Linked DNA regions of Homo sapiens. Changing the gene in region 2 together with the main gene of any one other region gives a genetic interaction. Each region holds a gene or a part of one and is shown on either strand. Other genes may lie near its edges.

The links.
Region 1: changes in ARGLU1 (region 2) and GBF1 together harm fitness more than expected from each alone (negative genetic interaction), as found in Homo sapiens cells (one study listed by BioGRID).

The regions. Positions count from the first base shown.
Region 1 is NC_000010.11:102,248,532-102,255,531, reverse strand, and holds part of GBF1 (Golgi-specific brefeldin A-resistance guanine nucleotide exchange factor 1), read right to left. Parts: intron 1-7,000. UniProt on the Homo sapiens protein: Guanine-nucleotide exchange factor (GEF) for members of the Arf family of small GTPases involved in trafficking in the early secretory pathway; its GEF activity initiates the coating of nascent vesicles via the localized generation of activated ARFs through replacement of GDP with GTP.
Region 2 is NC_000013.11:106,565,048-106,573,037, reverse strand, and holds the start of ARGLU1 (arginine and glutamate-rich protein 1), read left to right. Parts: upstream 1-4,900; 5' UTR 4,901-5,118; coding exon 5,119-5,465; intron 5,466-7,990. UniProt on the Homo sapiens protein: Dual function regulator of gene expression; regulator of transcription and modulator of alternative splicing. General coactivator of nuclear receptor-induced gene expression, including genes activated by the glucocorticoid receptor NR3C1.

The sequences.
Region 1 (7,000 bases), on a different chromosome or scaffold from region 2:
ACTAACTTTTCTCTGTATATTCTTTTTTACCTTTTGAATTTTGTGTCACAAACATATATTACCTATTAACTACTTTTAAATTTTAATCAGCTGATTGACTAAAAATGAATAAGCCCTTTAGAAAAGAAGTAACCACTTTCTAAGACAGCAAAGGTCTAAGCAAAAAATCATTGTAAAAAAGAAACATCTAGGGCTGGGCGCAGTGGTTCACGCCTATAATCCCAGCACTCTGGGAGGCTGAGGTGGGCAGATCACCTGAGGTTGGGAGTTCAAGACCAGCCTGGCCAACATGGTGAAACGCCACCTCAACTAAAAATACAAAAATTAGCCAGGTGTGGTGACACACACCTGTAATCCCAGCTGCTTGGGAGGCTGAGGCAGGAGAATCACTTGAACCCAGGAGGTGGAGGTTACAGTGAGCCGAGATCGCGCCACTGCATTCCAACCTGGGCAACAGAGTGAGACTCTGTCTCAAAAAAAAAGAAACATCTAGGGAATGAAGAGGAATTATTTTCAAGTACTATGCAGAGCTGCCTAATCTCCTTCTAGGTCTCTGAGTATGTCCCCTCACTCAGGGAATCTCCAAACAGTTGTGCCCTTCAGCTTCAGATGGGAAACTGATGAACCACTTGCTGCCTGGTAGCCAATGGCCAAGAAATCCCTTGTCACAAGGTCATAAAGGCCTGCAGAAACCTCATAAAAGTATAGTAGAAACGAACTTAAGATTTATCTTGTGTCAGAAATAACAAGAGAAATACATTCATTATGTACCCACACAAATGAAAAATTAATAGAAAAAAATAAATAAGAGAGGGAACAACTAAATAAATACCAACTAACACCCTTAGCCAGATAAGCCACTGGCCCAGAGACTCTGAGTAACATGTACCCTTGAAACCACTGTCCATTTAAAGCTGGGTCTAGAACATTCCCCTAGTGCTTTGTGGCATCCCAGTTACCTCAACAGGATCCAAAGAGGAGTCACTGTATCACTTGGCAACTCTGTCTATATCCAACAAAAGCAGGAGAAAAAGAAACAATAAATTGTATTCTTATTTAATGGAATACCAAAAATATATCTCAGGTTATTTAAATATGAAAAGCAAAACTTGAAATCTCTTAGAAGCTAATATATGAGAATATTTTCTTTTTGATTTTTTTTTAGAGATAGGGTCTTGCCATGTTGCCCAGGCTGGACTCAAACTCCTAGGCTCAAGCAATCCTTCCACAACAGCCTCTTGGGTAGCTGGGACAACAGGTGTGTGCCACAGCACCTGGCTACAGGAGAGTATTTTTATAAACTCAGCATAAGGGAGAAGTACCTAAACAAGAAACAAAAAGCAAAACCTCTTTAAAAAATTGGTGAATTCAACCATGTTAAAATTAAAAATGCCTGTTCAAAAGACAACATAAAAAAGAGGGAAAAGATAAGGCACAAACCAGAAGAAAATATTTGAGGCACATATAACTAATATAAAGGAGTAATATCCAGAGTATACAATAACTGCTACAAAACTATAAGAACTAGACATATAACCCCTCCCCAAAATTGGCAACAGAGATGAATAGGTGTTTCACAGAATAGGAAACATAAACAGCAAATAAATATATGAAAAGATTATTAGCTTCATTAATAATCAGGAAAATTACAAAATAAGATTATAATGATATACCACTTTACATTCCTGAAATAGCAAAACACTTTAAATCTGATAATACTTAAAAGGCCAGGTGCTCACGCCTATAATCCAGCATTTTAGGAGGCCGATGCAGGAGGATCACTTGAGCCAAGGAGTTTGAGAACAGCCTGGGCATCATAGCAAAACTCCATCTCTACAAAAAATTTAAAAATTAGTAGGGCATGGTGGCATGTGCCTGTAGTCCCAGCTACTTGAGAGGCTGAAGTGGGAGGATCACTTGAGCCTAGGAGGTCAAGGCTGCAGTGAGCCACGATCACACCACTGTACTCCAGCCTGGACAACAGAGTAAGACCCTGTCTCAAAAAAAAAATTGTTTTTAAGTTGGTAAAAAATGCAGACCAAGTGGCTGGTATGTATCTAAATTAATATGAATTTGAATAACAATTTGGCATTATCTTACAAAGCTAAAGCACTTCATATCCTATATTTCAGCAATTCCACTTCTAGGACTATACCCCAGAGAAGCTCACACAAAAAAATTGAGAATAGTGGCAAGCGGCAGGGAGTGTGGGGGAACTAACAGGGAAGGGCATACATACATGCAGCCTCAGTTTTGGTGATGTTATTTTTCAAGCTGGGTGGCAGCCATTGGTGCCCCATATAAGCTACACATATTCTTTGTCTAAAATAGCCCCTCGGCTGGGGGCAGTGGCTCATGCTTGTAATCCCAGCACTTTGGGAGGCCAAAGCAGGCAGATCAACTGAGGTCAGGAGTTTGAGACCAGCCTGGCCAGCATGGTGAAACCCCCACTCTACTAAAAATACAAAAATTAGCTGGGCATGATGGCAGGGGCCTGTAATCCCAGCTACTCAGGAGGCTGAGGCAGGAGGATTGCTTGAACCCAGGAGGTGGAGGTTGCAGTAAGCCAAGATTGCATCACTGGTCTCCAGCCTGGGCAGCAGAGCAAGACACCGGCTCAAAAAATAATAATAATAAAATAAAATAAAAGACCCTAAAAAGTTAAAAAGTTCCTTTTTTTTTTTTGAAACAGGGTCTCATTCTGTCGCCCAGGCTGGAGTGCAGTGGTACAATCTTGACTCACTGCAATATCTGCTTCCCAGGCTCAAGCGATCCTCCCACCTCAGCCTCCCAAGTAGCTGGAACTACAGGCATGAGTCACCATGCCTGGCTAATTTTTTTGTATTTTTTGTAGAGACAACATTTTGCCATGTTGCCCAGGCTGGTCTCAAACTCCAGAGCTCAAAGCAATCTGCCTGCCTTGGCCTCCCAAAATGCTGGGATTATAGGTGTGGGCCACCACGCCACATCATTCCTACTTTTTAAAGTCATGGTCTTTGCTGCCTCTTTGCCTTTGCATATGAAGCTCCCTTTCTATTCTGAATGTTTTTTCTCACTCTTGTCCACCTGATAAACCCTTACTCATTCCATCCAAAAGTCAATGAGGGAGTCAGAATATCACAGTGGTTCTAAGAACAATCTTAAAACCACTTATTTATTTATTTATTTATTTTTCCACTTTTTTTTTTTTTTTGAGACAGCGTTTCCCCCTTGTTGCCCAGGCTGGAGTGCAATGGCACAATCTCGGCTCACCGTAACCTCTGCCTCCCAGGTTTAAGCGATTCTCCTGCCTCAACCTCCCAGCAGCTGGGATTACATTCATGCGCCACCATGCCGGGCCAATTTTGTATTTTTAGTAGAGATGAGGTTTCTCCGTGTTGGTCAGGCTGGTCTCAAACTCCCGGCCTCAGGTGATCTGCCCACCTCGGCCTCCCAAAGTGCTGGGATTACAGGTGTGAGCCACTGCGCCCAGCCCTTTTTTCCACTTTTTTAGCAGAGTATTTTTAGTAGAGTTGGGGTTTCACCATGTTGGCCAGGCTGGTCTCAAACTCCTGGTCTCAAACTCCTGACCTCAAGTGATCTGCCTGCCTCGGCCTCTCAAAGTGCTGGGATTATAGGCATGAACTACCATGCCCGGCCACCCACAGCACTTTGTAGTTATCTCTAAACATATCTTGGCTGGGGACAGTGGCTGATGTCTGTGATCCCAGCACTTTGGGAGGCCAAGGAGGGAGCATCAGTTGAGCCTAGAAGTTCAAGACCAGCTTAGGCAACATGGCGAGACCCTGTCTCTACAAAACATAAAGAAAAATTGGCCAGGTGTGGTGGCGCACACCTGTTGTCCCAGCTACTTGGGAGGCTAAGGCAGGAGGATCACTTGAGCCCAGGAGTTCCAGGTTGCCTTGCGGTATGATCGTGCCACTGTACTCCAGCCTGGGTGACAGAGTGAGACTCTGCCTCAAATAAATAAATGAAAATAAAAATAAACACATCTTATACTAATTTATAATTATTTATTTAGTGTATCACCACCATGGGACTATCAGGCTCTATCTCAGGGGGAAAGACCATGATTTATTTACCCTTTTATCTCCAAAGCCTGACACATAGTAAGAAAAATGATCAATAAATACTAGATGAACAAATGAAATAACATCAAGACTGACTCTTCAAGAGTGGTACAGCACACATCCACCTCATGAGAAAAATGACTTCATAGAAGACAATAACTCTGAGCCACACTGGCAAACCTTTTTTTGATAATATATATTTGCTTCTCTACCAGAAGTTACAAACCTTCCATACAGGTAAAAAGAACCCACATTTACCTACCAGCCATATCATAATGCTTCTTTTTTCACGTCTATCTTCCTGACATCTCCTTAAGTGTTATTTGCACATTCACATTTTTGTGAAATATATAATTTTTAATGTAACTGTCAATTCTTCATATATGCCTTATTTTCTTTGGCTCTAAATAGCTGTTTTTAGTACACTAGTGTTTAAGTGGTTTTTTTTTTTTTCTTAATCACTTTTATGGGGTTTGGTTTTGTGTTTGTTTGGTTGTTTGTTTTGAGACAGAGTTTCGCTCTTGTCGTCTAGGCTGGAGTGCAGTGGCGCAATCTCGGCTCACTGCAACCTCCACCTCCAGGGTTCAAGTGATTCTCCTGCCTCAGCCTCCCGAGTAGCTGGGATTACAGGCGCCCACAACCACGCCTAGCTAATTTTTATATTTTTAGTAGAGACAGCGTTTCACCATGTTGGCCAGGCTGGCCTTTAACTCCTGACCTCAGGTGATCTGCCTCCCTTGACTTCCCAAAGTGCTGGCATTACAGGCATGAGCTACCACGCCCGGCCTCTTAATCACTTTTAAACATTTCCTTGGCCAGGTGCAGTAGCTCTCATCTTTAATCCCAGCACTTTAGGAGGCCAAAGCAGGAGGAATGGTTGAGCTCAGGAGTCAGAGACCAGCCTAGGCAACATAAATTAAAAAAAAAAAAAAAAAAATTAGTGGGACATAGTGATACATGCCTGTAGTTCCAGCCACTAGGGAGCCTAAGGTAGGAGGATCAGTTGAGCCAAAAAAAATCAAGGCTGCAATGGGCTATGATGACACCACTGGACTCTGGGCAACATAGTAAAATCCTGTGTCTACAAAAAACACAAAAATCAGGCAGGCGTGGTGGCACGCACCTATAGTCCCAGCTACTCAGGAGGCTGAGATGGGAGGATCACTTCAGCCTGAGAGGCAAAGGTTGCAGTGAGCCGAGATCTCACACCACTGCATTCCAGCTTGGGTGGCAGAGAGAGACTCTGTCTCAAAAAAAAATTATTCTTATCCAACTAGCAAATAAATTCTCCAAAGGCAAAAGCGCAATTTTGTTTTTCTTTTTCATGATGCCTTTGTGTCTAATACAGAGCTGGGCAAACCAAGAAAAACTGATGGACTTTCTGAAAAGGTAGATGGTAGTAGGGAGCTAAAGGACCAGCAATAGGCCCTTCTAAGGTTTATGTTCACTCAATACCTTTAAAAGCCAGAGAAGGCTGGGCGCATTGGCTCACACCTATAATCCCAGCACTTTGGGAGGCCGAGGTGGGCGGATCACGAAGTCAAGAGTTCAAGACCAGCCTGGCCAATATGGTGAAACCACATCTCTATTAAAAATACAAAAATTAGCTGGGTGTGGTGGCGTGCACCTGTAGTCCCAGCTACTTGGGAGGCTAAGGCAGGAGAATTGCTTGAACCCAGGAGGCGGAGGTTGCAGTGAGCCAAGATCACACCACTGCACTCCAGCCTGGGCAACAGAGCAAGACTCCATCAGAGAAAAAAAAAAAAAAAGCCAGAGAAACACTAAAGATGCAGAGCTTTTAACATTTCCAGAGCTGGCCTAGGAACACATCATAGTTCTGTGCTTTATTGAGAATAACCAAAGTTACTAAACTAGGAAACAACTTACTGAGCTCAAGAAATTTACTTAAAGGGTGGAAGTAAAAGAAGGTTAAACTGGGAAAAAAGCTGGTGCCCTGACAATGCATCACTGGAAAATCCTCCCAGACCTGATAATCGGGTGACCAGGGTACCTCAGCTCTAGCATGCCATCTCCTCCCCCTGTGGAGATTCTGAGAGTATCTCAAAAACCGTTTACAAGGTAAGCTACTAATATGTCCAAAGCTGTCCCTTCTGCCAGCTTGGAGATGAAAAATAAAACAAACCTTCTCTATCTCACTCCATCTTTTAGCCACTCAGGGCACCCAAGGTACAAAGGTGACAGCTGGCAGAGTAGGACAAAGAAAAAAAGTCTATGTGATTATGTATAGAGAACTGCAGTGATTAAGTCTCATAAGGCCTGCCCATTTTGTTTATTGAGGGTCATCATCCAGTAACCATTGGGCAGAATCCAGTCCACAGACATATTTTCTTTGGCCTGAAAAAGGCTTAAAAATACTTTTAACTAGTTTCCAACAATTAGAAAACACAATGATCTAAATTTCCAGTTTCTCCTGAAAAATAGAAAGAGTGGTCATTCTGTGCCTGCACTCTAAAACAGTAACAATCTGCTGAAAAAGGAGCAGTTGGCTCTTCTAAATAAAGGAATGGGTTGAGCATGGTGGTTCATTCCTAAAATCCCAGCACTTTGGGAGGCAAAAGTGGGAGGACTGCTTGAGTCTAGGAGTTCGAAACCAGCCTGAGCAATACAGTGAGACCTTGTCTCTACAAAATATTAAAAAATTAGCTGGGCATGATGGCGCACATCTGTGTTCCCCGCTACTTGGGAGGCTGAGGTAGGAAGATCACTTGAGCCCAGAGGTCAAGGCTGCAGTGAGCTGTGATCGTTCCTCTGCACTCCAGCCGGGGTGACAGAGCAAGACCCTGTCTCAATAAAAAGAAATTAAAATTAAAGACAAAAAAAAAATAAAGGCATGGGTTGTCCAGTACACAACAGTCCCCACTAATCCTAATACATTCCCATGGGACTCAATTAACTCATTTACATTACCT
Region 2 (7,990 bases):
ACTCCACCTGCACTGTAAGTGTAGACATAACTCTCTGAGCAACTAAGATGGTATTTTCCATTAACAAGGCAATCAATACTTACGACGCTTCATGGGCATGTTGTAAAATACATCTCAAACTTTGAAAAGTTGGCAAAAACAATTGAGGATCAATTTAATTTAAGAATTAGGATCAGTAATTTAAGAATTAGGAGTATATTAGTCTGTTTTCACACTACTATAAAGAACTGCCCGAGACTGGGTAATTTATAAAGGAAAGAGGTTTAATTGACTCACATTTCAGCATGGCTGAGGAGGCCTCAGGAGACTTACAATCATGGCCCAAGGTGAAGGGAAAGCAAGGCACCTTCTTTACAAGGTGGCAGGAAGAAGAAATGAACCCAGGAGGAACTACCACTTATAAAACCATCAGATCTCATGAGAACTCACTCACCATCATGACAACAGCATGCGGAAACCACCCCCATGATTCAATTACCTCCACCTGGTCTCTCCCTTGACACATGGGGTTTATGGGGATTACAATTCAAAATGAGATTTTGGTTGGGAAAACAGCCAAACCATATTAAGGAGGAAAGATACATTCATGCATCTCCTATTTTTTACATTAAATTGTTCTTTGGAATGATCTGGATTTGAATGATGTGTTATTTATATTTGGCTATCCTAATTATTCAAACATGAACTGAGAAAATGCTTTTATTGGAGAAGGGAATGGAGGAAGGGAGGCAACTAAAAATTTTAAGAGTCTGAAAACAAAACAAAACAAAACAAAACAAATGAAGCCAAACTTATACTTAGGATAAAAAACCATGCAATTCTCTTCTTTCAAGGTGTATTCGGCATATATTTATCGAGGTTAGCTAACCCATAGGGTGTCAGTGGACACAAAACAGTCAAGATGCCGAGAATTTGGATTCTGGTGGCAAAAAATAGTCAATAAAGAAATACATGAGAAAATAAGGTGAGTTCAGGGAGTGTGAAATGTCAAGATTTTGATAATTATACTATAAAATGCAGGCATAAAATGTGTGTGTTCCTCATTCCTTCAATGCATCCTCAGAGATGATCCCTGGTAAATTAAGGGCTTTCATGCACTTTTTCCTTTTTTTTTTTTTTTTTTTTTTTCCTGGCAGCAGCCAAAAGACATGGCCAGAGCCTGAGCAGGGTAAATATCATCTTTTTTTTTTTAGACAGAGTCTTGCTCTGTCACTTAGGCTAGAGTGCAGTAGCCCGATCTTAGCTCACTGCAACCTCTGCCTCCTGGGTTCAAGCAATTCTCTGCCTCAGCCTCCTGAGTAGCTGGGATTACAGGCACCCGCCACCACGCCTGGCTAACTTTTGTATTTTTAGTAGAGACGGGGTTTCACCATCTTGACCAGGCTGGTCTTGAACTCTTGACTTTGTGATCCACCCGCCTCAGCCTCCCAAAGTGCTGGGATTACAGGCATGAGCCACCACGCCCGCCCCAATATCATCCTCTTTTAAAAGCTCCATAATCCCCTATACCTCTACATCCAATCTCCAGTGGTCTTATAAGAAGAGGACAGACGTACAGTAAAGATGGAGACAGGGACTAAAAGCCAAGGAATGCCAGCAAGCACCAGGAGCTAAGTGAGAGGCAGTGAACAGATTCTTCTCCAGAGCCTCCAAAGGAACCAACTTTGCTGACATTTGATTTTGGACTGCTGGACTCCAGAACTGTAAGTGAATACATTTCTGTTCATTTAAGACATCAGTCTGTGGTAATTTGTCGGGGCAGCTCTAGAAAATTTATACACTAACTCATTGGAAATAACTATCTTTATCATTAAACAGACATCATTCTGGATTATATATATATGTAATATACATATATATAAACAAAATTCCAGATATATCTATACATCATATCATATATTCACACCATATATGGATATATAAACCATATATATCATTCCCACTGGATAGATAGGTACAGATACGTACAGACAGATGGTTAGATTGACAGAAATATTTCTACTATAATGGGGGTAATTCTATACATTCTATATTAAATGTGATTTTACTTGAACGTATCTGAAGTAAAAGAATAGATCTATCCTTCTATTGCACTGTTTTCCTATTTCTGTCCTAAAATCTTGTTGTTCAGTTTATTCAATTTTGTGTAGGGCAAACAGGTACTGTTTGCTACGGTCTAAATGTTTGTGTGCCCTCCCAAACCCAGATGTTGAAATCTAATCACCAATGTAATGGTATTAGGAGGTGGGGCTGCTGGAAGATGACGGTATTAGGAGGTGGAGCCGCTGGAACACGATGGTATTAGGAGGTGGGGCTGATAGGAGACAAAGGTATTAGGAGGTGGGGCTGCTGGAACATTATGGTATGAGGAGGTGGGGCTGCTGGGAGATGACGGTATGAGGAGGTGGGGCTGCTGGGAGATGACGGTATGAGGAGGTGGGGCTGCTGGGACATGATGGTATGAGGAAGTGGAGCTGCTGGGACAGGATGGTATTAGGAGGCGGGGCTGCCGGGAGACGATGGTATTAGGAGGCGGGGCTGCCGGGAGACGATGGTATTAGGAGGCGGGGCAGCTGGGAGACGATGGTATTAGGAGGTGAGGCTGCTGGCTCTGCCCTCATGAATTGGATTAGTTCCTATCTTAGTCCATTCAGCCTACTATAAGACTACCTCAGACTGGGTCATTTATAAACAGCAGAAATTTATCGCTCAGAGTTCTGGAAGCTGGGAGTCCAAGATTAAGGCACTGGCAGATTCAGTGTCTGGTGAGGCCTCACTCTCTGCTTCATAGATGACACCTTTTTCTATGTCTTCACATGGTAAAGAACGGGTGAACAAGCTTCCTTGGGCCCCTTTTATAAGGGCATTGCTATGGCTTAAATGTATGTGTCTCTCTAGAATTCCTATGTTGGAGCCTAAAATCCACTATAATAACATTAAGAGCTGAAGCCGTTTTGGAAGTGATTAAGAAATGAGGCTCCACCCTCTTGAATGGGAATAGTATCCTTACAAAAGAGGTTGACAGGAGTGTCCTAGTTCCCCCCCCTTTTTTTTTGCCCTTTTGCCTCCCATCCCTTCCCTCATGTGAGGACACAGTGTTCGTCCCCTTCTGTGGACCCAGCAAAACAAGGCACTATCTTGGAAGCAGATAGCAAGCTCTTATCAGACACTGACTCTGCTGGTACCTTTATCTTGGACTTCTTAGCCTTCAGAACTCTGAGAAATAATGTCTATTATTTATAAATCACTCAGTCTAAAGTATTCTGTTATAGCAGTGGAAATGGGCTGAGATAGGCACTAATTCCAGTTATGAGGTTAGAGCCCTCATGACCTAATCAATATCCCAAAGCCCCACCTTTTAATACTATTGCACTGGTGATTAGGTTTCAACATATGAATCTGAGGGAACACAAACTTTCAGACCCTAGAAGTGCCACTAAAAGAGAGCTCAGAGAGCTAGCTTTCCCCTTCTATCATGTGAGGGCACTGTGAGTAGGTGCCTTCTGTGAGTCATCTGTGAATCTCTGGGTCCTCACCAGCGACCAGATTGGCTAGCACCTGGATCCTGGATTTCCAACTTTCAGAACTGTGAGAAATAAATTTGTTGTTCATAAGCTGCCTAGTTTATGATATTTTGTTACAGCAGTCAACACAGACTAATACACTACTCTTCTTTGTTTCCAAGTTTTCTTGATAATTAATTATGTGATCTTCCATATAAAACTTAAAATTAATTAGTTCTAAAACACATATCCCCAAGAGAATTTGGGACTCTCATGAGAATTGCACTAATTTTGTAATTTGACTTGGGAAGAATTGACAGTATTTTTGATACTGACTACTCACCTAAGAATACAGCATGTTTTACATTTACTAGGGCCTTATTACTGCCTTTTCAGTAAAGGTTTATAATAAAGATTGTGTAACTTGTTAAAGTTTATCCCTAAGTATTTTATGGTTTCTGTTGCCATTGTGGAGGAAATATTATTTCATTTTTAATATGTTTTTGCTTATTCAAATAATTCTAATTTTTCTTCTACTTACTTAAGCTTTATTATTGCACTCAATTTTAAAATTGAGGCACCTAGATTTTCAAGGGTTCCTGTCATCTGCAAATATTAACATTGCCTTTTCCTTTTAGGTCTTAACAATGACACAGTTTGTTGTGCCACATAGGGACGAAGCTTTTCGTGGCTAGGGTTGAGGAGGGCTTGCTGGTTATGTGCAAGGGCTTTGCACAATATGATCTAGGTTCACGTCCCTGCTCTGTCACCTACTGGTTGTGTGACCCTTATTTAACCTCTGTGGACCTCAGGGTCCTCATCTCTGAAACGTGGATAATAGTAGTACTTAATTCAGAATTGTAAGAATTAAGCACTTGTTAATACATTAAAGCATTTAGAAGGCACATTAAGCCCTATAGTAAGCATTAGGTTACATTCATCAAAACCTGCTGCCTACTTACCTCCTGCAAGTCTCATAAGCACTTCAGAAAGTGTGGTGTCTCCATTCTACGAATGAGGAAACTAAGTCCAAGGCAGCAAGTGATGAGTGCAGGGTCACTTGGAGATACATTTTAGGGCTGCCCCACAAGACCAGCTCCTAGAAAATAATGCAATCAATCAACTTCTGCGAGGCCGGACTTAAATCCCACTAAAACGTGCTTAATTCATTCAACAGGCGTTGGCATCTTACCAGGGAGGAAAAAAAAAAAAAGAGTACGCCAAGGCGAAAAGGAGAGTCTCCATCTATTGCGTCTCAGGCTTCCGCCAAGACTGGCGGAAAAAAACGAGTCCGCTCCGAAGCGCTCGCCTGCCTTCGGCAAAAATCGTCAGGAGGCGGGGCCCACGCTTCGGCACGTTTCGCGCAGGGCATTGTGGGAAGGGCGGCCGGTGCAGCCGCAGCTGCCATCTTAGGGGCGCCTGGCGCTACGGGTTTCTCGTTGGAGGCGGCCTTCGTGGCAGCTGTAGACGCCGGGAAAAGGCATAAAGTCCGTTGGCCGACACCTTTCTTTCCTCCGGCCTCGGTAGAACCGCCAGCCCGCGTCCGAAGGCGGAGGCGAGGGGAACTGGCCGCGTGAGGGGCCTGAGGCGAGCGGTTAGAGCGTCTCCCGGAAGGATGGGCCGGTCTCGGAGCCGGAGCTCGTCCCGCTCCAAGCACACCAAGAGCAGCAAGCACAACAAGAAGCGCAGCCGGTCCCGGTCGCGATCCCGGGACAAGGAGCGCGTGCGGAAGCGTTCCAAATCTCGGGAAAGTAAACGGAACCGGCGGCGGGAGTCGCGGTCCCGTTCGCGCTCCACCAACACGGCCGTGTCCCGGCGCGAGCGGGACCGGGAGCGCGCCTCGTCCCCGCCCGACCGCATCGACATCTTCGGGCGCACGGTGAGCAAGCGCAGCAGCCTGGACGAGAAGCAGAAGCGAGAGGAGGAGGAGAAGAAAGCGGAGTTCGAGCGGCAGCGAAAAATGTGAGTGCCCGCGCGGGGAGGGACCGGGGCGTGCGGAGAGCAGGGCGCGGGGCGAGGGCGTGGGGCCGGGGCGGGACGGTGCGGGCCGGGAGAATGGCGGGGACGGTCCGGGGCTGGGGACCGGGCGCGGGAACGGGTCGGAGAGGCGGCGGCGGGGCGGGCAGGCTTGGCGTTTGGAAAGCTTGGGGTGGGACAGACCCAGAAGTTGTTCGGGATGGAAAATTCGAGGGCTTGAGCAGAAAGGGTTTAAGAGAAGGCGATTTTGGCGCGAGAGAGGAGTGGTGTCCCGGAAGTAGGGGTGGAGTTCGGAGTGAGGTCGGAGAGCTGCGTTGGCTTGTGAGGCCGGGAGCGAGCCGGCCTGCAGATGTGGAGGGTGGTGAGCGTTTGCTGGTCGGCTTGAGGAGGAGAGAGAAGGGAATTAACCTTTGAGATGCGAATCACAGCTGGCCAGAAGCATTCTATTGAAGCTCAAATTTGGGACAGGACTTAACTAATCTCGGGAATCATACACTTTAGGTGGTCCGCCAGAAAAATGCATTTTCACTTTAGTGTATTCCTGTTGTTAAGGTGTTGGGATTGCTTTTTTCCCCTTGAGCCTACACCCTCACCCCTTCCTTGAGATGTTAAAAAAAAAAAGCATAGACCTTAAGTGTACAGTGCGATGAGTTTTTTGACCTTTGAATTCACCTGTGTAATCACCATCCCAAAGCCTACCGCTTTTTTAACTTGCTTTCTATTCCTGTAGCAAACACGTGCAGTTTTGTTGTTTCCCTTACACTGTGCTTCTTCAGAAGACACTTGAAGGGTTGATTTTATTTTGGCGTTGCTCCCATGAAGGATATTTAGTGAAAACTAGAGTTAGAGTGTGTTTCCGAAAATGTCAGCTCTCAAGTATTTCTGGCTATGAAAGTAGATGTGGATAAATAATCCCAAACTAAAGGAATTTTTGGGTTTTAAAATTTAGGGATTTGTTGTGTGTTTTGCTTTATGATCATCGTACTTTGATGCTCTGGGTATTCAGTTTCCAAAAACCGCATTGAAAAGTAGATTTGAACAGTCCTACTAACTCCCTATTGAACCAGCCGTACTTGGTCAGTTCTTCAGTGAATATTTAGAAAGTGCTCATGAAGCAAGAACGTTACTGAATTTATGATTTTCTCGAGGCGAGTATATGTGTGCTGAATTGACTGCGTGGTTTGTAGTTTTCTGTAGTTGGGTTTGTGTTAGGTAGATTTTCCAGCACACACACACAGCTTGTTTCTAAAACCAAAGTTACTAAAAGGTAGGACTGGAGCACTAATATTACAGAGGAAGCTGTACCTGGAGCTGTTTTGCTTCCAACACTCCTTTAAAACACATGCAACACTCATTTTTCCTGTACTTAGAACTGTCAGTGATACATATGAAAACAAAGTTCAAGTAATCGTTTCAAATTAAACCTTGATTTTGTAGAATACAACTTTTGGGTCTGCAACAAGGCCCTTAGCTGTAAAGATCTCAAATAGCTATCAACAGATGGATGTATGAAAAGTTACCTAAGACATTGCTGAGATAATTTCTACATGTGAAAACAAAGGAGACCTCCAAAGAGTAATAACTTGCCTTTCACTAGAAAGCTAAGATATGTAGGAAAAATGAAAAGAAACTTGGTATGCAAAGAATAAATAGAAGCATTTAGCAGGTTTCGCATGTATAGCAGACAAGAAATTCAGGAATGAAATACGGCAAATAGAGGAGCTATATGGTTCTCTGGTTTGAGAGAAGACACAAACTGCCAATAGTATTTAGGAGGGAGAAGGGACCAGGACTAGCAGCCACCTGTACTCTAAATTCCTGGGTGCCGTACAATAGGCATTTTATTTAATATATTCTAATGTCTTGGAAACAATGCAAAAGAAACAATGGAAAGACTTAAGTGTTGGAGCTTTGGCAGTGTAAGGAAACAGTTTGCAGTCTACATATCCTGTTGGTTATTTTATTCATTTAACTGATGTTTATTGAGCATTTAATAAGTGCCAGGCACTGTGCTAGGTACTGTTAATATAAAGATGATTGGCCCTTCTCCAAGAGCTTGATCTAGCTCAAAGACAGATCATTAAATAGGCAATAATACAGTGTAGTAAATTTAGTGACAGTAATATAAACTGTATAAAGGAAGTATCCTGTGTGGGTGGAGGATATAAGAATATGACAATGTCAGGCAAGGTATAGGACATATGTGGAGCACAGAAAAGAGCCTCCTCCCCCGACTCCTGCCAAAATAGAGGAAATGGTCTTAAAAGTGGAATGATCAGGTGACTGTTGACTTAGAACACGAAGTTCTATAAATATTTAAGTCATGGAGTGACTGGAGAGGTAAATAGAGGCTGGGAATCATGTTAGGGTTATTGTATGTCATATTAAAGAGCTTGGATTGCATCCTAGAAACGGGAAGGATTTTAAGCAGGTGAATGACATGGTGCCTTTTTTGTTTTGATTGTTGTGTAGGATGGAAACTAAGAGGTGGGTACAGAAGTTTACACAGG